Linked DNA regions of Homo sapiens. The protein of the gene in region 6 purifies or fractionates together with the protein of the main gene of each other region. This does not show direct contact. Each region holds a gene or a part of one and is shown on either strand. Other genes may lie near its edges. The genes, in order: NOS1AP, PNN, MYH4, CKM, ANKRD17, AKAP17A and RNPS1.

Region 1 (3,500 bases), on a different chromosome or scaffold from region 6:
GTCTATTTCAAATGTGTGAAAGATGCCAAGAAGACCCACCTATTAATCCAGCTACATCTTACGTAATTGTTTTTACCCAAGGATATAGACACTAGTAAAAAAGCCCTTGAATTAAACACTACAAAGAAAGTGGAAGAATGAACAGTGTGCGGAGAAACCTCTAACTGAAGGTCAGTTTAGGACCGAATCCGTCTGCAGGACAGGAGAGCTGAAAGCCAGCTGAAATGTACAATATCCCTGCTGTGGTCCTGGACAGCAAAAGCAAGATGCGAACAGAAAGAAGGTAGTCAGAGACAGATGGGCATGGCAGACAGAGGTACAGGAGTATGTTCAAGAACCTATCAGATGACCCCAACGTCCTATCTGATGATTTTGGAAGCCTAAGACTCTCCCTAAAGTCATCTCACAAATGTGGGACACAGATGCAGTATGGTGGCCTTTTGATCACCACACTGCTTGTATTGAGAGTCAAGCAGGGCAACTATATTCAACAGATTCCAAGTGAGTGAGAGGCTAAGGGTGCTCAGCCTGTGGACATGTGGAACCGAGAGAGGCTCATGAAGCAAATCTCTAATACCACACCCTTTCCTTCCCCTAGATTCATTGTCTTCTAGGAGAGACACAATTAAAACAGGGCCAGGGCAGGATTTCCCATGGAGACTGACAATTGATTCTATACCAGAAAACTACTCTTAAGGTTTCATCCTGACTGTAGTAGACCTGTGATAAGTTACATGTCTTGTTGCTTTGGAGATTGAATGCTTCCTTCCACCGCCACAACACTATTGTGTGGATTACACATTTGCAAATAGTTTCTCTCTAGTACTTAGCAGTGACTTCGAATTCAAATGCCTCCCTGATAAAATCATATCATGAATATGCATCAAGCCCACTCTTAGATAAATAATAATTACTTGGCAATTGATACGCTGCAAAATAAAAGTATTATGTTCTGTATTCAATGGGAAACTTGTGGAAATGAAATGAGTCTGAGAATGGACCCGTGCTGCAGTGCTTAGTCTTTGTGCTCCTGTCAACTGTCACACTAGGGAGGGGATTCTCAGACTGCTGTGCCATCATTAACTACAGGAGATGGATTCTTTTATTTGACAAAGAGAAATGATTTTTTTTCTCCAAATATAAGAAGCCATTAATGACATTCCCCCTCTCTGTTGCTGTTTTGGGAACACCTGCAAATCCTCCTAGCATCACGAGATATCCTTTTGTTTCATGGTAAGACTTTTTAAAAAGACTCCGATAACTTGAGAGCTGTGTCCCATTGACTCTACTCTCCTGAAACCTGGCTGCAAAAGTCATCCATGAGCCTTGCATCTCAGGCCCAGGTCAGGAGAGACCGTGTTACAAGAAGGTCTTCTTCAAACCCTGAGTCATAGCAGATCCTGTTATGGCCAGGACGCCGGATGCCTCCTCAAGGTGGAAAGGTGGAAAGGATATCTCTGGCTGGATGATTCAGTCCACTCAAGAGCCAGGACAAGAGTAAGCAGAAGACATAACAGAGAGCAATAAGTGCTCCCTGGAGAAGTCTGCTCCCCGCCATTCTAGAATGCAGAAAACCTAAGTGGTCAACAGTCTGGTCAAGCAGATTTAGAATGTTGATGCAGGCTGCCTTTCCAGATCCTTTACCAATTCTTCCAAGCCCCAACTGCCCCGTCTCCTAAGATCTTCATGCACTCATCAGGCCCTGACCCTGCCTCTCGCCTCAGGATTCAGCCTTGGGTATGAATGAATGTCTTCACCATTCCCTGAGTGCTGGTGGTAGAGAGGGAGCTCAGACTTCCCAAGAAAGATGTGGACTACAGCGCCCTCTATAGAAAGCAAACAAGAAGAATCCCTGCTGAAAGCAGCAAGGGAAATCAGCTCACCCTCCCCTATAATGTAGCAGCCCCCGAACAAGTTTTTTGGGGTACAAACACCACCTTGATTCTGAGATCTAAGCCAATTCTTTTCATTATGGCTCAAATAATACACCTAAATTCCTGTAAGTTAAATCCTACAATAATGAATTCCAATCAAATACTGCCTGGAATAAGTAGATCGTAATGAAGGCTGGGAAACCTGTTATAGACACGGAGACTGGGATGCTAGGGTAGTAATCTTTTTACAACAGTGTTTGGCACAAATTCATACTTTAAGCTGTTTTAAGAGTGGTATCATAAAGCCACAACTGTTCTGACTCCAAAGGCATCACTTTCCACCCCAAATATCAGGAAAGTAAGGCAGGAAAGGAAGGGTGGAATTGTGTGCATCTTTTCCCTTGGTCAGTTCAAGTCATTAACAACATTCAGCCAAGCCAGCCAAGCCCAGCTCAGAGCAGGGGATACATGGGAAACCAAAATGTGCCTCTCCATTTCAACTGCATCCCCCATCTATCCCCCTCCCGCTGCCCCCACTCCCCAACAAGCAATGATCCAATAGCATGAGCGATTCCTTATGACTCCCTAGATTTTAAACCTGCCCTGAGCCCCTCGCTAGGGAAGGTGCATCAAGCCCATGAGAGTGGAGCCTGCGAAGTAGGGAGGAGGCTGAGGAGAACCTGGGCCACAGCCACTTGTGTCTGCTGCTGCTGCTGCTGGAGGAGCTGCTGGAGGAGCTGCATCTGGTGGTGAGTGGACAGCGGTGTCTCTGTGCCCAGGCCTGGAGGCTTCGAGGAAGAAGAAGGGAGCAGCATCCTGGGTGAGGCTGTCAGCATGGGCTCCTGGGGGTGCGAAACCTGGAGGAGAAGGAGAAGACAGGACATGACATGTGGCAGGAGCCATCTTGAGGGGCCTCCCTCTCTTTGGCATGCACTCAGGAGGAGCAAATTGGCACACTTACAACCCATAAGCTGACAGCACTATATCTTCAATGGAAATGGGAGTAGAGGCCCAGAAAGGAAATGGTGTAGCTGCCTGGGCTGATACCACACAGTCAGAAAATCGTAGGGGGACTAGGGGGACACCTCGGTAACTGACCCCGATGGGAGACTGATGGCTGATACTGCTCCATCTCTTGCCCACCACTTCCAATGATACCCTGTCACTGAGTTCCTTGAGGTTCTAGACTTAGAAGAATCTATTTTAGGAAAACGTAGCTTCCATCCACCCTACCATGATAACAGGAAGGACCCAGCTTCAATCCTCTACTCTGCTGTGTCCTTAGGGCTCCCTCCTCCAGGGTCTGAGATGTTCCTTCTCCCTTGTTGGGAGAAGCGTGGAGCTGGGTCCTGGAGGAAGGGGCCATGTGAGGGGGCTACCTCCTGCCCTCCACTGCCTCTGGTGAGAACCATCGGCAAAGAAGTTTGGATCCTAAAATATATAATGATCTGGAGAGATCCTCTTAGATGAAAGAAGTTCCTGTGTCCTTCCCTCCTTTCCTTCTGTCTCCCTCTCCTGTGGACATTTTTACCAAGATGGCTTCTACGATTCATAGAATTCCATGGCAGGGAAAGACATTTTGTTTCTGGCAGTTCTGCTGTGGGGACTTCTTCAGACATACACAAG
Region 2 (2,733 bases), on a different chromosome or scaffold from region 6:
TGCAGTGGCTCATGCCTGTAATCCCAGCACTTTGGGAGGCTGAGGCAGGTGGATCACCTGAGGTCAGAAGTTTTTCGAGACCAGCCTGGCCAACATGGTGAAACCCTGTCTTTACTAAAAATACAAAATTAGCCGCCTGTGGTGGCATGCGCCTGTAATCCCCAGCTATTTGGGAGGCGGAGGCAAGAGAATCACTTGAACCCTGGAGGTGAGGTTGCAATGAGCCAAGATCACACTATTGTACCCCAGCCTGGGCAACAGGCGCAAAACTCCATCTCAAAAAAAGAAAAAATGTGAAGCATATGCAGATACCTTTTTTTTTTCTTTTTCTTTTTTTTTGTAGAGATGGGGTTTTATCATGTTGCCCAGGCTGGTCTGAGCTCAAAGCAATCCACCCACCTCAGCCTCCCAGAGTGCTGGGATGACAGGTGTGAGCCACTGTGCCCGGCCTGCAGATACCTTTACATAGTGAAAAAAAAAAAAAAAAAAAAAATTTTTTTTGAGATGGAGTTTGGCTCTTCTTGCTCAGGCTGGAGTGTAGTGGCGTGATCTCAGCTCACTGCAACCTCCGCCTCTGGGGTTCAAGTGATTTCTCCTGCTTCGGCCTCCCAAGTAGCTGGGATTATAGGTGCGTGCAACCACGCCCTGTTAATTTTTTTGTGTTTTTAGTAGAGATGGTGGTGTTGGCTTCTGACTTCAGATGATCTACCTGCCTCTAATGTTTCACGTAATTAGTATGTGTAATAACTTTTTATCATAATTGAACTGAAATCATATATACCTTTTGTTGTAACTATTTCAACACGTAAGTATTAAAGCAGGCTACTTAACTTTTAGCAAAAGCGGCGCCAGGAAATTGAACAAAAACTTGAAGTTCAGGCAGAAGAAGAGAGAAAGCAGGTTGAAAATGAAAGGAGAGAACTGTTTGAAGAGAGGCGTGCTAAACAGACAGAACTGCGGCTTTTGGAACAGAAAGTTGAGCTTGCGCAGCTGGTGAGTGGTAATTTGGAATTCTAAGATTGGTAATCCTTTGTGTTTACAAAAGCACTGACCCTTTACCTTTTCTTTAGCAAGAAGAATGGAATGAACATAATGCCAAAATAATTAAATATATAAGAACTAAGACAAAGCCCCATTTGTTTTATATTCCTGGAAGAATGTGTCCAGCTACCCAAAAACTAATAGAAGAGTCACAGAGAAAAATGAACGGTAAGTATGCGAAGAGGTCCATTGAATTGTTCATAGTGGGTAAGGTAATATGTTCATATGCACACGTTTGTTTTCTAAAATAATTATGATTCAGTGATTGGTTTGCTGTGTTTGCTTTTTTTTTTTAAATAAGATAATAAGATATTCTAGGCCGGGCGTGGTGGCTCACGCCTGTAATCCCAGCACTTTGGGAGGCTGAGGCAGGCAGATCATGAGGTCAGGAGATCGAGACCATCCCGGCTAACATGGTGAAACCCCGTCTCTAGTCTCTACTAAAAATACAAAAAAAATTAGCTGGGCATGGTGGTGGGCACCTGTAATTCCAGCTACTTGGCAGGCTGAGGCAGGAGAATCACTTGAACCTGGGAGGCAGAAGTTGCAGTGAGCCGAGATTACGCCACTGAACTCCAGCCTGGGCAACAGAGCTAGACTCCATCTCAAAAAAAAAAAAAAAGATACATTCTGAGATGCTGGTGAGTTTGTAGTATAGGAATATTTGTATCATGATGGAGTTTAATGTGAAAGTTATAGACAGTGCTTATGCATCTGTATTCCTTAAGCATTTGTGTAAAATTACTTTTTTTTGCATGCTATTATTGTTCTGATAAAATGCTAATAAGACAAATGTGAAAACCAACTCAGTTTCTAGATGGAAAACACATGGAAGGATAGACACTGCTAAGATGATGATTTATCTCTTTGGGATCAGAAAAATTAATATATATGATTTTATGCCAAAACTGGTTCTGTTTTACAGAAGTTTTATTTTTCATCAGACATAAAGATTGATCTGTTTTCTTCATCAGTTAGAAAATGTGTAGTTCTGTCTGCCACAATTTCTAGTATGTAGATTTCCCATGGATCTTTGCTTTTATAATTTTATGTCAGTTTGTGGTTACTTAATTGCCATAATCTTTTGTCATAACTTTACAAAAACAAATTCAGATGAAGCTTAATGACAATTTGTGACCAGTTATAAAATTATGGCTTTGAATTTTCTTAATCGGTAAATTTTACACATGTAAATTTTTATTCTTTAGCTTTATTTGAAGGTAGACGCATCGAATTTGCAGAACAAATAAATAAAATGGAGGCTAGGCCTAGAAGACAATCAATGAAGGAAAAAGAGCATCAGGTGGTGCGTAATGAAGAACAGAAGGCGGAACAAGAAGAGGGTAAGGTGGCTCAGCGAGAGGAAGAGTTGGAGGAGACAGGTAATCAGCACAATGATGTAGAAATAGAGGAAGCAGGAGAGGAAGAGGAAAAGGAAATAGCGATTGTTCATAGTGATGCAGAGAAAGAACAGGAGGAGGAAGAACAAAAACAGGAAATGGAGGTTAAGATGGAGGAGGAAACTGAGGTAAGGGAAAGTGAGAAGCAGCAGGATAGTCAGCCTGAAGAAGTTATGGATGTGCTAGAGATGGTTGAGAATGTCAAACATGTAATTGCTGACCAGGAGGTAATGGAAACTAATCGAGTTGAAAGTGTAGAACCTTCAGAAAATGAAGCTAGCAAAGAATTGGA
Region 3 (2,770 bases), on a different chromosome or scaffold from region 6:
ATTAAATTTAGAAGTTTGATTAAAGAGCTATATATAGAAAGGAGAAAAGGCATAAACTTAGAATTATCTTCTAATTTGGTTTTTATTCTAAACATTTCTTATGATCAATAATTTTTGCCTGTGTACACTAGGTAAAATGACAATGTGAGTTGTTATAAGTAAATGTGCTTCTCTTCTCTTTCATTAATTTGAAACAGAACACCAGCCTGATCAACACCAAGAAGAAGCTGGAAACAGACATTTCCCAAATCCAGGGAGAGATGGAGGACATCGTCCAGGAAGCCCGCAATGCAGAGGAGAAGGCCAAGAAGGCCATCACTGATGTAAGCAAGATGAGCATTTGTCTTACTGACACATGCATGCTGCCTGCTATCATCAGAATTCATTATTTTCAAAATTTATTTGCTAACTAGGCTGCCATGATGGCTGAGGAGCTGAAGAAGGAACAGGACACCAGCGCCCACCTGGAGCGGATGAAGAAGAACATGGAGCAGACCGTGAAGGATCTGCAGCTCCGTCTGGATGAGGCTGAGCAGCTGGCGCTGAAGGGTGGGAAGAAGCAGATCCAGAAACTGGAGGCCAGGGTAGGTCTCCACAACTTCACTCAATTCCTTGTGGCCAGTTACAGCCAAACTGGTAAACGTCTTTGTTCCCTTCCAGGTGAGAGAGCTTGAAAGTGAGGTGGAAAGTGAACAGAAGCACAATGTTGAGGCTGTCAAGGGTCTTCGCAAACATGAGAGAAGAGTGAAGGAACTCACTTACCAGGTGACCAGTGTTTTCATATCTTCCAGGCCTATAGTTTTCAAGAAAATCATGAGTTGTTTTAAAATAATGGCACCATCTACTTGCACCTCTTTCAGACTGAGGAGGACCGCAAGAATATTCTCAGGCTGCAGGACTTGGTGGACAAATTGCAAACCAAAGTCAAAGCTTACAAGAGACAAGCTGAAGAGGCTGTGAGTATCTCCACAGTGGAAATGAAAGGTTCAGATGCACATCCAGGTTTTTTGGGGCCTAAAGTTTATAGAATTTAGGGGGTTTTCTTTAAATTGGGAATACATAATTAGGTATGAACATGAATATTTAGAATGAGAAAAATGAACCATAAATTACTGGAGCCTTATAGATTTGAGTTTATTTCTTCTGAGACCTCTTTAAGCAATTTTCCAGACATGTTAACATACAAATGTTTCTTAGTTGCAATCCACTTCCCTCCCTATCTAGAACATTCTACAACCCCCAGCACTCATATGGACCTGTGCAAATGAGAGTATGAATTCTAAGCTTCATTTAACTTCATGATAAATCCATCTTGGGACTTTTTTTTTCAATTTGGCTGCAGTTATCTTTTTCATTCTGTTAATTCTGAAACCTTCCTTAGGGTTCTTGGCACCAAATGCCACTACTGCACCTATTTTTTAAAGTTTCTTTTTTAGAAACAAGATTGAATTCAGATCCCTGCTACTTTGTTCTTCCAGTTATCACTGCAGCCTCTTCAGTTTGCCAGAAAGAGAGTCAAGTGAGAGAGAGACTTGAGGAGGGTCATAAGCACATTCATTTACATAGGCGAGTTTGTGGGATGCCTTGCTCTCAAATAACTATGTTACTAAATAATAAAGCCTTTTTCTCTTCTTTTTTTTTTTTTCGAGGCAGAGTTTTGCTCTTGTTGCCCAGGCTGGAGTGCAATGGCACAATCTCAGCTCACTGCAATCTCTGCCTCCTGGGTCCAAGAGATTCTCCTGCCTCAGCCTCCTGAGTAGCTGGAATTACAGGCATCCACCACTACGCTGGGCTAATTTTAGTAAAGATGGGGGTTTCACCATGTTGGCCAGGCTGGTCTCGAATTCCTGACCTCAGGTGATCCACCCGCCTCAGTCTCCCAGAGTGCTGGGATTACAGGTGTGAGCCACCATGCCTGGACAACGGAGCCTTTTTCTTTCTCATTCATGAGGCAAATCCTGAAGTAACAAAAGCAATAACAATCAGGAAATGTCCAATTTTCTTGTTATCTCAAATGCATCTCTGTTCTCAGGAGGAACAATCCAATGTCAACCTTGCCAAGTTCCGCAAGCTCCAGCACGAGCTGGAGGAGGCCAAGGAACGGGCTGACATTGCTGAGTCCCAAGTCAACAAGCTGAGAGTGAAGAGTCGGGAGGTTCACACAAAAGTCATAAGTGAAGAGTAATTCATTCTAATGAAAGAAAATGTGACCAAAGAAATGCACGAAATGTGAAGTTCTTTGTCACTGTCCTGTATATCAAGGAAATAAAATCTTTAGATAATTTTGCATCTAAAAATACATTTGTCTCTTAATTATAAGCTCTTTAGTGCTATTAGAACTAATTCCTTTATTCAACATTTGTGGAGTTCCTAATATGTGCAATCAGAGATAATAACAAAAATGAATGTAGGCAGTGAACCCAACTTTAATGGAAGGTAAATGAAATAAGGTGCTCTGAGAAGACATGAAGGTGACAAACGCACTCTCAATTCCATTCAACCAATTTTACTGAGTATCAACTATATGTCTGGTACAGAAATGGACACGAAAGATGTGACAGTTATCCCTGTCTTTGAGAAGTTCAATCCAGTGTGGAAGACGGCAGTTCAAAAAGATATACGCTGTATGTATGTGCAACATACATACTCTGACATGAGTGTGAAAAACAAATGTGGCAATAACATAGAGTGAGCTGCTAACTTTGGAAATCCAGAAAGGCTTCTCAAAGGAGACTATGAGCTGATTCCTAAAAGAGGACCAGACAGTTAT
Region 4 (3,500 bases), on a different chromosome or scaffold from region 6:
CCTGGGCAACATAGTGACACCCTGTCTCTATTTTTTTTTTTTTTTTGAGACAGAATCTCACTCTGTCACCCAGGTTGGAGTGCAGTGGCTCGATCTCAGCTCACGGAAACCCCTGATCCCCAGGTTCAAGTGATTCTCGTGCCTCAGCCTCCTGAGTAGCTGGGATTACAGGCGCGCACCACCACGCCCAGCTAATTTTTGTATTTTTAGTAGAAATGGGGTTTCACCATGTTGGCCAAGCTGGTTTCGAACTCCTGACCTCAGGTGATTGGCTCACCTCGGCTTCCCAAAGTGTTGGGATTACAGGTGTGAGCCACCGCGCCCAGCCCCTGTCTCTATTTATAAAAAATTTATTTTAAGTTAGCCGAACATGGTGGCATATACCTACCTGTTAGTCCCAGCTACTTGGGAGGCTGAGGCAGGGGAATTGCTTGAGCCCAGGAGTTTGAGGTTGCAGTGAGCTATGATGGCACCACTGCACTCCAGCCTGGGCGACAGAGAGAGACCCTGTCTCGAAGAAAAAAAAGGAAAAGAAATATACGAAGATGGGGAGAGAGAGGTATAAAGAAAAACAGAGATAGGAGAGGGGAGAGAGACAGAGAAGGGAGAGACAGAGCCCAGGTATGGGTGGCGGGGAGAGGCTCCACACACCCAATCAGTGAGGATGCAGAAGGCAAAGGAAGCAACAGGGAGACTGAGGGGAGCATCTGGGGGAGACCTGGGCTTGCTGGAGAGGGCGGAGGATCTGCCTGGTCCTGATCTCCCACCCGCTCTCCAGGGTGGAGACGACCTGGACCCTAACTACGTGCTCAGCAGCCGCGTCCGCACTGGCCGCAGCATCAAGGGCTACACGTTGCCCCCACACTGCTCCCGTGGCGAGCGCCGGGCGGTGGAGAAGCTCTCTGTGGAAGGTGAGCGCCCCTACCCCGTCCACTGCTGGGGTCACCCAGCCCTGGCTCTGTTCCTCCATGGGCAGGTCCTCGGGTCTCTTTGGGCCCCCGCTTTTCAAAGTAGGGGAAGAGCTTGGTAAATCGTGGGGGCTTGGGGAATGGCGCGGGCTGTCAGCATTACCTGCTGTGTTGGAGATTCAGGGATGCTGTCCAGACCCGACGGCCCCTGAGAAGACCTACGCAGACACCTGGCTGCCCCCAGCGTCCTGCCATCCGTTCATCCAGCACACATTTCCAGGGGTTCTTGCCCTGTGTGGGGAGATAGGGGTCCCTCACTGTTCTCACAGAGTGTTCAGCTGGTGGGGAGACAAGAGGAAATACAGAAACCCACAGATGAACAAGATAATTCAAAAGTGCCATGAAGCCAAGACATGGGTGTGGTGGAGAATGACCGAGGGGAGCCACCTCAGATAGGAGGAGTTGAGGCCGGGCACAGTGGCTCCCACAGCAGTGCGGGAGGCCTAGGAGGGAGGGTCGCTTGAGCCCAGGAGTTCAAGACCAGACTGGGCAATACAGCAAGACCCTGTCTCTACAAAAAAGACAAAAATGAGCCAGGAGTGGTGGCACACACCTGTCATCCCAGCTACTCAGGAGACTGAGGTGGGAGGATCACTTGAGCCCGGGAGGTTGAGGCTGCAGTGAATCGTGATTGTGCCACTGCACTCCAGCCAGGGTGACAGAGTGAGAACCTGCCTCAAAAACAAATAAAAAGAGGCCAGGCACAGTGGCTCACACCGTAATCCCAGCATTTTGGGAAGCTGAGGCAGGTGGATCATTTGAGGTCAGGAGTTTGAGACCAGCCTGGCCAACATGGTAAAACCCCATCTCTACTAAAAATACAAAAATCAGCTGGGTCTGGTGGCACACACCTGTAATCCCAGCGACTTGGGAGACTGAGGCAGGAGAATCGCTTGAACCTGGGAGGCAGAGGTTGCAGTGAGCTGAGATCACGCCACTGCACTCCAGCCTGGGGGACAGAGTGTGACTCCATCTCAAAAAAAAAAGTTATGTTTATCCTATACTGTAGTCTGTTAAGTGCACAATAGCATTATGTCTAGAAAAAAAAAAGTACATACCTTAATTTTAAAATCCTGCTAAAAATGTTGTGATCATTTGAGGACTCAGCAAGTTGGAACCTTTCTGTTGTGTAGGGCCTTGCCTTGATGTTGATGGGCTGCTGACTGATCAGGGCGGTTGTCGTTCAAGGTTGAGATGGCTGCGGCAATTCCTTCCTTCCTTCCTTCCTTCCTTTCCTTTCTTTTCTTCCTCCCTTCCTTCCCTTCCTTCCCTCCCTCCCTTCCTTCCCTTCCCTTCCCTTTTCTTCTCCGTCCTTCCTTCCTTCCTTCTTTCCTCCCTCCCTTCCTCCCTTCCTTCCTTCCTTCTCTTTCTCTCTCTCTTTTCAAGACAGGGTCTTGTTCTGTTGCCCAGCTGGAATGCAGTGGTGCAATCATGACTTACCATAACCTCCAACTCCTGGGCTTAAGTGATCCTCCCATGTTGGTCTCCCAAAGTGCTGGCATTACAGGTGTGAGCCACAGTGCCTGGCCAGCAGTAATAGTTTGAAAAGAATCTCTTTTTTGAGATGGAGCCACACTCTTGTCGCCCAGGCTGGAGTGCAGTGGTGCAATCTTGGCTTACTGTTACCTCCACCTCGTGGTTCAAGCAATTCTCGTGTCTCAGCCACCCAAGTAGCTGAGATCACCGGCATGCGCCACCACGCCTGGCTAATTTTTGTATTTTTAGTAGAATCGGGGTTTCGCCATCTTGGCCAGGCTGGTCTCAAACTCCTGATCTCAGGTGATCTGCCTGCCTCAGCCTCCCAAACCACTAGGATTACAGGCGTGAGCCACCGCACCTGGCCTATGAAGCTTTTTATTTAAAGTGAAAAATGTTGACTCTTCCTTTCACTTGAACACCTCGAGGCCATTGTAAGGTTATGAACTGAATTGGCCTGATTTCAAAATCATGTGTCTCAGGGAATACGGAGGCTCAAGGAGATGGGGAGAGATGAGGGAATGGCTGGTCAGTGGGGCAGTCCGAGCACACACATTTATCCATTAAGTTCACCCTTTTATATGGGCAAGGTCGGTGGCACCCCCCAAAATTAAAACAGTAACATCAGAGATCACTGATCACGGATCGCCATGACAGATATAGTAATAATGAGAAAGTCTGCAGTACTGTGAGAATTACCCACATGTGACACAGAGACACGAAGTGGCACATGCTGTAGGAAAAATGGCTCCAATAGACCTGCTGGACAAAGAGTTGCCACAAACCTCCAATTTGTAAAAAACACAGTATCTGCAAAATGCAATAAAACGAGGTATGTCTGTATATTATATGAATATGTATAAGATATATAAATATTATAGATTTATTGTACATATGCACAAACACAAATTCATTATACACATATTTTATACATGAATATACAAATAAACACACAATTTTTTTTCTTTTTTTTTTTTTTAGACAGAATCTCACTCTGTCACCCAGGCTGGAGTGCAGTGGCAAAATCTCAGCTCACTGCAACCTCCACCTCTTGGG
Region 5 (3,500 bases), on a different chromosome or scaffold from region 6:
TGGTATAAACTGATTATACAATAATTGAGATATTAACTACTTGGGGATTTAAGGTGTGAACTAACCCAAGTGTAATGTCCAAGAGTTAAATCATTTCTTAAAACAATGATGTAGTCTGCATATACACATACCACATATTTTCAAAATTAAAAAATAAAAGACCTTCATGGTCTCAAAAAGTTATGGGTTTTTTTATTGTTCAAATAAAAGTGCACTGCATTACATCTGAAATATAAAAAATGTATTTTAAAAATGTTCCTAGTACAGACTTCTAAAACCATGGTATTGTACTAAACAAGCCTGATCCCCAAGACTAAATACGGAGCATTTCAATCTATATCCCCTGGCCCCACAGGTTTGAAGTCAAGAAAATATAGGAGTTTTCCCCCTCCTTTTTAAATAAAATACCTCACCTAAGAAATTCAGTATTGTGAAACAACACAACTCATGTGTTGTAATAAATATTGGATAGCATCTGTTCTCCAGCAGGATTACCTTAAATAGAAAATAACCCTAGTTAACACAGGAAAGAATTAAGAAAAAAAATTTTATGTATAGAATAGTGGCAAGTCATATATAAAATACTTCGTTAAATAACATTATTACATCCCTTTTTTAGTAAAGTGCTATAATTTTATTTCATAGCTATATTTATTTGTAGGCTGTCTTTTAGCTCTCCCTTTAAATTTGGGCATATTAAACATAGGTGGAAAAACAAATTTATATATTTTAAGACCACTTCTTAAACTAAAAGATATGAGTGTACTGTTTACAAATTTCTGGATATGTTTGAGAAGTCATCTTTTTACTCTTTACTCAGGCTTTACTCTTTACTCAGATGGAAGAAATCATTTGATTTACTTGACAACCAAGGAACCATGTTAATATCATCAACTCTAGGTGATTTATATGAATTTTAGTTAGTTTTTATGTTTTACCAGTGTGAAATTTTATGTCTAATTAAAAAAAAAGAAGACAAATTGATATATACATTACTCGATTTTTATGCTTACTTTCTTTTACATTTCAACCATATAATTAATTTTTCCATGAGACAGGGTAGGACACATAATCTTCTTGGATACATTACTGTTTATTGTTTCAAGTGGATGGAATATATAAATCCCACTGAGTAGTTTAGTGTGGCCTTGTATCTTTTATAAACAGGTTAAATGGAGACTTTACACTGTAATCTGTGTATTTATCTGTCTACCATAAATTGTCTTCGTGACAAATGCAGAATTTCTTTTATTACTTGGCTCAAATTAACTGTTGATCCTTTTCACTGATAATATACAAGGGTAAAAAAGCAGGAAGCCTTTAAAATTGAAAAAAGAAATAAGATATTTTCCACTAAATTACTGAAAATTGAAATTTTTATGTTGACTGTTGATGACTGAAAAGCCAATGTTAAGAATCAATATCATCCAATATAAAATAGTACATTGAATTATTTAATAAACAGAATATTAAGAGCTTGTATATGCTGACTGGGAACAGTGGTGGCTTTTTAAATTCTCAGAAAGTTTAAACATTTTATAATTAGAAGAAACCACTGGTGATGATGAAGATGGTCCATCTCTGTAGCAGCCATTACAGTGAAAATCTTGACAGAACCTTTTCACTATCAGAAAGATAATTTTACTGGTATTAGTGGTAAAGGTAAGGAGAGAAAAAGGAGTGAGGAGATAAGTCTGTATTAGTTTTAAAAGTGAGAAAAGGTAATAAAACAACATGGAAAAGCCAGAAATTTCTTCTTCTATATGTGCCTTGCTACAAATAAACCAAAAAGAAAGCAAGATGGGTATTTTAAAAGCCAATGTGGGGAAACATCCAATGATAATGCCCATTATTTTACTTTATACTTAAATTACACCAGTAGAAAAGTTATGCTTATTAATAGTTTAATGTATGAAGGAAACATCCAGATTTCTGAATATGAAGGTACATATCTCACATTAATTTAAGTCTACATAAAGTAGAGCCTCTATACTGACATATTGAAATTTACTTTCTGCTTAGCCTTTTCTGTTATGTAAACAATTGTACATTTATTTGCCATTCTAAAACTTCAGGATCAAGTTTACATAATTTTGCTAAATTTCCGTGTTTGCTCAGAAGCAGTTTACAGTACTAAAACCAACCAGCCAAAGAACAGCTTCAACAGAAAGTTATGTCCAAAGGGGAAGAGGGAAAGAAAAAAAGAAAAATGATAAGAAAAATGCTAACTAAGGTAAAACGGATGATGATGGGGAATGGGCAGTCACAAATGTTCACAGAAAATAGGTCAGTTAGTAAGATCTTCTGCAAAAAGCCTACACACTTCAGTCAAGCACATCAGTAGAATGATTTGGGAGCATAATTTTTTTTTTCGGCCACTTGTGATTTCCTCCAAATGAAAAGGAATCTGCAGGCTAACAAGCTGATCCTCATCAGCCAAGCTGGTTCATATGCACACTGTTCATGTGAGGTGCCCAGGGTCCAGTCCACACCTATGAATATAGAGCATGCATTTTACAAAATATATATCTAGCATATATTTTATTAAAATAAAACTTTTAAAAAACTAAGGAGGTACTCTTCAATTTGCAATATACTAGGAACTAATGGAAAAAAATGATAAAAACCTTTTTTCTATTATTTTCCTACCTCTTATCCCTCAAACAGAATCTGATTTACAACCTTTAAAAAAAAAATCATTACCTGAGCATTTATAGATTCACGGTTGTGGAAGAAAAATAAATCAAAGATATTAAACATACACTAAACTAAAATATACAACCATTTATGTGAATTCTCAGAGTTATTTATAGTACCTTTAATAAATAACCTTTAGATGGTCTTTTCACACCACTAGTAAACTTTAATGTATAAAATCATATGACAGTCACTTTGCAACTTAAAATCTTTCATTTATTATCTGCTACCCAGTAGAATATACAATACCTTTCATAATTTTAGCCCCAAACCTGCCTTTGGTACCACTGCCCACAGCCCTCTGCTATATTGCAGCTATATTAGATTTCCTCAACTGCCCATATTCACCAAACTCTCTTGCTATCATGAGTTACCTGAATCCTATTTGTCTTTGCATTTCTTAAACACAAAACAACTGTTTATTCACTGAATGATCAGCCTCACCGTTTGAGGGCCATTATTTTCCGTGGAGCTGGAAACCATCTTTATCAGTGAGTTCCAAGAAGGGTCTGCAGCATGAGGGCCATTAAATATGGGTCCTCCAGCACCATCAGGGATAGGTGCTACTGGAGGAATCATTGCATTCCCATACACAGAAAAAGGCATACCCTTAAAAAAGGAAAACACACACATTAACATCCAAGTCATTGTTCATTTTTCCCAATATAATCAATAGCCTTAAAATTGATATTTGAAAGTTCACCTCATCCTGGGAATGTGTAACTTATCTAAGAAATCTAAAAATTATTACCCATTATATAACTTATTTTAACATTAGATTATACATATGCCTACTATATTCA
Region 6 (3,500 bases):
AGCTTTCAGAGGACAGCTCTCATCAAGCTCAAAGTTACACGTGAGGGCTGAACAAGCAAACATGCCTCATCTCCACCCACCAGAAAGAAATGCAGGAGGCTGCCCTGGGCCTCCCCTCATGCTCAGCCTCTGAGGAAGGACAGTGGGGGACAGCGGGGACAAGTACGGCCCTGCGTGTGGAGCCCTCCTGGCCAGCTCCCCCAGACAACAGGCCTGCCCCTCCCCGGGGCTCTGGACACCCCATCCTGCTCTCGAGAACCTCATGGCCCGGCCCCGCTTCCCCCAATCCCTCTGTGGTCTGGCCAGGCAGACGGGGTCCCTTCCCTGCAGAGACACACTCCACTACTCCAACGTCCATCTCTCCTCAGGGAAAGATCAAGGATGCAGCTTCTTCTCCGCACCCGCAAGCTGCTTTCTGAAATGTTGCGGGGACACTCCTGCGACACCGAGAGGTCCGAGGCTCTGAGTCCCACTCCACACTTCCAGAATGTGGACAGGCACATTCAGCCAGGCCTGGGCTGTGTCTGCAGCCTGGAAGAGTCCCTGTAACGCCCCAGGACTGTCTCCCACCCCAGCTGTCCTGCTCGGCCTGACAGTGGCTGACACAGGGGACCCGGACTCAACCCCACATCCGAACCGCCCCTCCCAGGGACCGCCTCCCAGGATGGCGACGCAGCAGCATGTCCCTCCCTCCCAGGGCGTCTGCCTCTCTGTGCTGCCTGCCTTAGGTCCTGGGAATCCTGACGGCTGACATGGGCCCCCCCAGCACATTCACGGCCACTCGCTTACACACTGCACCTGCCTCACCTAAGGAGCCCTCGGGGTTCAGATTCAGAGGCTGACAACCCGACTCTCCCCTGGGGAGGCAACGGGGGCTACGTAAAGAACACCACGGGCAGGATGGACCTGCTCCCAGGAGTTCAGTGCCGGGACTCTCGTGCAAACATCACCAGCCACACACATCAACACGCTGGCACCAGCGTCACATAAAGCAGTGAGAAATGGAAACAAAACGGACCAACTCGGTCCCACCAGAGGCTGTCCAGGAGCCCCCCAGCCAAGTCCAACACGTCCCAGACTTGATATCGGCGACATGAAGCGCAACAGACGTGCAGGACGCACCAAAGTCGTCAGAGGACACAGCGGGAGGGACGGAGGACGAAGAGGAGTAGGAGGAGGAGGATTCCGCCTCACTAGGAGGGTGGGAGGGACGGAGAAGGAGGAGGAGGAATCCACCTCACTAGGAGGACACGGCAGGAGGGATGGAGGAGGAAGAGGACGAATCCGCCTCACTAGGAGGGCACAGCGGGAGGGATGGAGGAGGAAGAGGAGGAGGAGGAGGAATCCACCTCACTAGGAGGGTGGGAGGGACGGAGAAGGAGGAGGAGGAATCCACCTCACTAGGAGGGTGGGAGGGATGGAGGAGGAGGAGGAGGAATCCACCTCACTAGGAGGGTGGGAGGGATGGAGGAGGAGGAGGAGGAATCCACCTCACTAGGAGGGTGGGAGGGATGGAGGAGGAGGAGGAGGAATCCACCTCACTAGGAGGGTGGGAGGGATGGAGGAGGAAGAGGAGGATTCCGCCTCACTAGGAGGGTGGGAGGGATGGAGGAGGAGGAGGAGGAATCCACCTCACTAGGAGGGTGGGAGGGATGGAGGAGGAGGAGGAGGAGGAGGATTCCGCCTCAGGGGATTCACAGAAAGTTGTTGGTTCCCTCCTGCAATGCTAAGAAGATAAAAGGGGCTACAAAGAGTGACCTGAGGTTGTCTCTGGTACCCCAACCACAGTGAACGACCCAGGCAATTGCTTTAAAGGCCTCTTATGTGAAACCGGGTTTTTGTCCTATCATTGGTTTTTTGTTTTTTTTTTTTTTTTTAAATCTGGCCATCACCATCAACCCTCTACTTCATTTTGTAAATGTAGCCTCAACCTAAATGCAAACTTGCAAACAGCCAAGGCATTCTGCTTGTTTCAGCGGGAGGTGTGAACAGCATGTGGAGGGAGAAGAGGTGGCTCTTCGGGCAAGGCGCGGTCCTGGGAGCCGGCAGAGATCGTGTCAGACCACGACGTGTGACAAGAAAAAGAGAAACATTCATATTCTGCTGCGTCTCAAACAGCCACTCACGCAGGTCCTCACGTGCACAGCTGAGCACCCACAGGCCTGCACACACACCCATACGTGCACACACAAGTACACACACGGGTTCACAGGCACACACGCATGCACACAGGCACATGTGTGCTATGTGCCGATACAGAAGCACACACATGTGGGCACACGTGCACATACACACACAGGTACACACACGAGCTCACACACATGCACGCACACACAGGCACACGTGCACACAGATGCTCAGGCACACACTCGGGCGCACATAGGGACATACAAAGTACACACACCGGTTCACAGGCACACGTGCGTCCATGCACACAGGTACACACACAAGCTCACAAGCATGCATGCACACACACACGCACAGGAATACATGCAGACACACGCACACGGGTCTGCGCACACTCCCAGGTGCCGGACACCAGCGCCGAGGGCCCGCTCCCGCAGAAGGTACCTTTCCTCCGCTCGCTGCCTCTCCTCCGCTTCCTTCTCTCTGCGCTTTTGTTCTTCTCTTTGCTGCTCCAGTTCCTGAAGCTTCTGCCTCTCCAGCTGCCGCTTCTTAATTGAGGCATCACTCAGGTGTTTGGTCGAATCAAAAGAAACCTTTAAAAGCAAAAACAGTGTCAGATGGCCTTCCCCCAAAACCCCCCAGACACACGGCCAGGCGCCCTCTCCTGGGCCGTAGGGCCGAGTGGCCTCAGAGCCTGAGCGCCCGCTCACCGCTCACCGCTCACCACTCATGTCCGGTGCAGACCCAGACAGTGGAGCCCAGAAGCCAAACCAATCCCTTCAAGTCACCATCAGTGGCTCAAGACTTAGCTCATCCCACGGAGTTACGACTCAGCGAGGAACACCAACTAGCCCTCGCCACTTACTGAACACAAGTGACACGCCACCGCTGCGAGACACAGCTCCCCTTCCGCTACCCGGCTCCACCATTCCCTGTGGCCACAGTCACTGAGCAGGCCGCCTGCCCACACCCACAGGGCACATCTTAAGGCCACAAAACCCCCTCCAGGAGGCTGGCTCATTTGTCACTGTGAAGCCAACACGGTCAAAACACGAGGCTAGGCTGAGCGCAGTGGCTCACGCCTGTAATCCCAGCACTTTGGGAGGGCGAGGCAGGCAGTTCATGAGGTCAGGAGTTCGAGACCAGCCTGGCCAATACGGCAAAACCCTGTTTCTACTAAAAATACAAAAATTAGCCAGGTGTGATGGCACGCGCCTGTAGTCCCAGCTACTCGGGAGGCTGAGGCAGAAGAATCGCTCGAACCCAGGAGGCGGAGGATGCACTGAGCAAAGATTGCGCCACTGCACTCCAGTCCAGGAAACAGATCGAGACTCTGCCTCGAAAAAAAAATAAAAATAAAAAAAATAAAAAAA
Region 7 (3,500 bases), on a different chromosome or scaffold from region 6:
ATAAACTGTATAGATTCAGTAAATCCAGTCACTCAGCAAAATAAACTAAAAATGCTGAAATACTGGGAAACTTCTGGTTCTCAGAAATGATTAAAGGAAATATTCCCATATAAAAAGCCAAATGTATTCTATGTAAGAAAACTGAATTTGATCCTTAAGCTTTTAACAGATTGGAAACTCTCTAAAATGTTAATCTACGCATATTTGCTAATTTTTTTCCCCCAAGAATAGTGTTCCTTTAAACTGGAGCTACAAAAAAAAGGTGTTCCTAAAACATCTTTTCGGTAATCACACACCCACTAAGAACTGGAATCCATGCCGGGCGCGTTGGCTCACGCCTGTAATCCCAGCACTTTGGGAGGTTGAGGCGAGAGGATCACCTGAAGTCAGCAGTTTGAGACAGGCCTGGCCAACATGGTGAAACCCCATCTCTACTAAAAACACAAAAATTAGCCAGGTGTGGTGGCGGGAGCCTGTAATCCCAGCTACTTGGGGAGGCTGAAGCAGAAGAATTGCTTGAACCCAGGAGGTGGAAGTTGCAGTGAGCCAAAATCATGCCACTGCACACCAGCGTGGGCGACAGAGCAAGACTCTGTCTCAAAAAAAGGTGTGGGAGGTTGATTGTAAAGAAAATTCTGTATGTAAACATGCTGGCTAAAGTTAAAGGGGTATCATCTAGTTTTTCTGTAAATTAAGCATTAAAATTACGTTTAGGCCGGGCGCAGTGGCTCACACCTGTAATCCCAGCTGCTTTGGGAGGCCAAGGCGGGTGGATCACCTGAGGTCTGGAGTTCAAGACCAACCTGGCCAACATGGTGAAACCATGTCTCTACTAAAAATACAAAAATTAGCTGGATATAGTGGAGGTTGCCTGTAATCCCAGCTACTCGGGAGGCTAAGGCAGGAGAACTGCTTGAACCCAGGAGGCGGAGGTTGCAGTGAGCCAAGATTGCACCATTGTACTCCAGCCTGGGCAACAAGAGCAGAAAAAAGTCTCAAAAAAAAAAAAAAAAAGGATTGGGTTTTAACATTAACAGCACACTGATGTAAAAGTGAAATTTGGCTTATTTGGTACCAAAAATTATACAGGAAGCACTACCAAATATAAAATTGGGTTTGGCTTTGTTTGGGCTGTATTTGTATAAATGTTATTGATATGTGTCCCAAAATCACGTAAAACTCCTACAATTGCAATATATCCTAGTGTACATGATCAGTAATAATTATAATTGTTATGTTAAATTATTGTGTGCCACAGAGCTAACAAATTTCGTCAATTGTGTCTTTAACTATGGCTGCCCTAAAACCTTTTTGTCATCCATAAACAATTGTTGTCTTGTTTTAATCCTTTTTAGAAGGTGGTTTTATAATCAGCTATAGAGTTCTAACAGTTGCTCTTAAATACAGATTTCTAATAACTTTGCAGATTGTGACATCAGAATAAAGAAAAAACATTCAGGACTCTTAAAGAGCTAAAATAAGGCCGGGTGCAGTGGCTCACGCCTGTAATCCCAGCACTTTGGGAGGCTGAGGCGGGCGGATCACGAGGTCAGGAGATCCAGACCATCCTGGCTAACAGGGTGAAACTCCATCTCTACTAAAAATACAAAAAATTAGCTGGGTGTGGTGGCCGGTGCCTGCAGTCCCAGCTACTCGAGAGGCTGAGGCAGGAGAATGGTGTGAACCCAGGAGGTGGAGCTTGCAGTGAGCCGAGATTGCGCCACTGCACTCCAGCCTGGGCGACAGAGCGAGACTCCGTCTCAAAAAAAAGAAAGGTAAAGCGTTCATTAATATCAAGCAGGGCAGAAATTAACTGCATAAACTGAACTAATAGAACACTGAAGTAATCTTTTTAACTTTTTGCTTAAAATATTCCTAATCCTTTTATTTTTCAAAGTCAAAAAAAGTTTTAAGCTATCAACAATTAAGTATACGCCTAGGAACAAAACTTGGAGCATATTTGTTTCTCTCTACCTAATTTCTTCAGAATTTGGAAACTATTTGTGTGTGTGTGTGTATTCTTTTTTTTTTTTTTTTTTTTTTTTTTGAGACCTAGTCTCACTTTGTTGCCCAGGCTGGAGTGCAGTGGCGTAATCTTGGCTCGCTGCAATCCCTGCCTCCTAGGTTCAAGCAATTCTCCTGCCTCAGCCTCCCAAGTAGCTGGGACCACAGGTGTGTGCCATCATGCCCGGCTAATTTTTGTATTTTTATTAGAGACGGGGTTTCACGATGTTGGCCACGCTGGTCTCAAACTCCTGACCTCAGGTGATCCATGTTGCCCAGTCTATTTGTACGTATTCTTAATTTATAGCAATATAGTTATTTGCGTAAGTGCAATAAAAATCCGTTTTCTTTTGTAACAGAACACAAATAAAAAACCGGCCTCCTATTTTGTGTACACAGTCCCTGTACAGGGTTTCTAATCTGAGGGAAGTAAAACATGCCACTTTCTAATGGACAAAAACCTCAAGTTATCTTGGAACCTCAAGAGGAGAGGATTTCACCCAACTCACAGGTATTTAATTGTACATATCCATGGCTGGGCTTGGGTTTAAAAAGGTATTATCTCAGATAAAAGGCCTATAGAAAAAATTATGGTTCTTGCTCCACTGTATACAAATAATTAAGCCAAATATAATAAAGCAAACCAGTCTTGTCTTTTAATAAATACCAGTCCTATTTGTCTTTTAATAAAAATGGGAAGCCCCCAAAAAAAATTGTTGGCTGGGCATGGTGGCTCATGCCTGTAATCCCAGCACTTTGGGAGGCCGAGGCAGGCGGATCACAAGGTCAGGAGATCCAGACCATCCTGGCTAACACGGTGAAACCCCGTCTCTACTAAAAATACAAAAAATTAGCCAGGCATGGTGGTGGGCGCCTGTAGTCCCAGCTACTCGGGAGGCTGAGGGAGGAGAATGGCATGAACCTGGTAGGCAGAGCTTGCAGTGGGCCGAGGTGGTGCTACTGCACTCCAGCCTGGGCGACAGAGCCAGACTCCGTCTCAAAAAAAAAAAAAAATTGTTTCAAAAACTATAGTACACCCAAATACTGTTCTCAATTTTTTCCTTTTTTGTTTCCTTTTTCCTAATTGGAAATCACTGAAATCTAAGCTATGCTTTCCTCAAGCCCTGTAAACTGAAGACTAAACTTGGGAAGAAAACAGCAGCAACCTACTTCTATGTGTGGCTGTTGCATCCTATTACGTTTCAGCAGGTGCTGCCTCGAAGCCCCCAGAACAGAAAGTGCTACCGGGAACAAATCCACCTCTTCCACTCCAGCGCTGTGTTTGGTGCCCCATGACGACAACCCTCTCTCAGCAGGAAGCAGCCAGAAAGATTACAATGCTTCATCTCCCTACGATTCTCGTGATTAATAAATACATATACATGCATGATAAAAAGCATGAGCAAATTGACAGTGGGGATTGTGGCAGGCCAGGTCTCACTAACGCAGGCCTCTGTAACAAGTGTTTTAGTACTGTCTGAGTAGTTAAATATTAA

Evidence for each region.
Region 1: the proteins of AKAP17A (region 6) and NOS1AP purify together in Homo sapiens (affinity purification with mass spectrometry; 2 studies listed by BioGRID and IntAct, with this or other methods). This does not show direct contact.
Region 2: the proteins of AKAP17A (region 6) and PNN purify together in Homo sapiens (affinity purification with mass spectrometry; 2 studies listed by BioGRID and IntAct, with this or other methods). This does not show direct contact.
Region 3: the proteins of AKAP17A (region 6) and MYH4 purify together in Homo sapiens (affinity purification with mass spectrometry; 2 studies listed by BioGRID and IntAct, with this or other methods). This does not show direct contact.
Region 4: the proteins of AKAP17A (region 6) and CKM purify together in Homo sapiens (affinity purification with mass spectrometry; 2 studies listed by BioGRID and IntAct, with this or other methods). This does not show direct contact.
Region 5: the proteins of AKAP17A (region 6) and ANKRD17 purify together in Homo sapiens (affinity purification with mass spectrometry; 2 studies listed by BioGRID and IntAct, with this or other methods). This does not show direct contact.
Region 7: the proteins of AKAP17A (region 6) and RNPS1 purify together in Homo sapiens (co-immunoprecipitation; 4 studies listed by BioGRID and IntAct, with this or other methods). This does not show direct contact.

The regions. Positions count from the first base shown.
Region 1 is NC_000001.11:162,356,191-162,359,690, reverse strand, and holds part of NOS1AP (carboxyl-terminal PDZ ligand of neuronal nitric oxide synthase protein), read right to left. Parts: intron 2,732-3,500; coding exon 2,555-2,731; intron 1-2,554. UniProt on the Homo sapiens protein: Adapter protein involved in neuronal nitric-oxide (NO) synthesis regulation via its association with nNOS/NOS1. The complex formed with NOS1 and synapsins is necessary for specific NO and synapsin functions at a presynaptic level.
Region 2 is NC_000014.9:39,178,254-39,180,986, forward strand, and holds part of PNN (pinin), read left to right. Parts: intron 1-837; coding exon 838-993; intron 994-1,070; coding exon 1,071-1,209; intron 1,210-2,249; coding exon 2,250-2,733. UniProt on the Homo sapiens protein: Transcriptional activator binding to the E-box 1 core sequence of the E-cadherin promoter gene; the core-binding sequence is 5'CAGGTG-3'. Capable of reversing CTBP1-mediated transcription repression.
Region 3 is NC_000017.11:10,442,790-10,445,559, reverse strand, and holds the end of MYH4 (myosin-4), read left to right. Parts: intron 1-197; coding exon 198-323; intron 324-413; coding exon 414-584; intron 585-660; coding exon 661-765; intron 766-860; coding exon 861-956; intron 957-2,032; coding exon 2,033-2,185; 3' UTR 2,186-2,270; downstream 2,271-2,770. UniProt on the Homo sapiens protein: Muscle contraction.
Region 4 is NC_000019.10:45,312,876-45,316,375, reverse strand, and holds part of CKM (creatine kinase M-type), read left to right. Parts: intron 1-778; coding exon 779-911; intron 912-3,500. UniProt on the Homo sapiens protein: Reversibly catalyzes the transfer of phosphate between ATP and various phosphogens (e.g. creatine phosphate).
Region 5 is NC_000004.12:73,073,799-73,077,298, forward strand, and holds part of ANKRD17 (ankyrin repeat domain-containing protein 17), read right to left. Parts: intron 3,307-3,500; coding exon 3,142-3,306; intron 2,493-3,141; coding exon 2,433-2,492; 3' UTR 1-2,432.
Region 6 is NC_000023.11:1,594,604-1,598,103, reverse strand, and holds part of AKAP17A (A-kinase anchor protein 17A), read right to left. Parts: intron 2,721-3,500; coding exon 2,572-2,720; intron 1-2,571. UniProt on the Homo sapiens protein: Splice factor regulating alternative splice site selection for certain mRNA precursors. Mediates regulation of pre-mRNA splicing in a PKA-dependent manner.
Region 7 is NC_000016.10:2,258,127-2,261,626, forward strand, and holds part of RNPS1 (RNA-binding protein with serine-rich domain 1), read right to left. Parts: intron 1-3,500. UniProt on the Homo sapiens protein: Part of pre- and post-splicing multiprotein mRNP complexes. Auxiliary component of the splicing-dependent multiprotein exon junction complex (EJC) deposited at splice junction on mRNAs.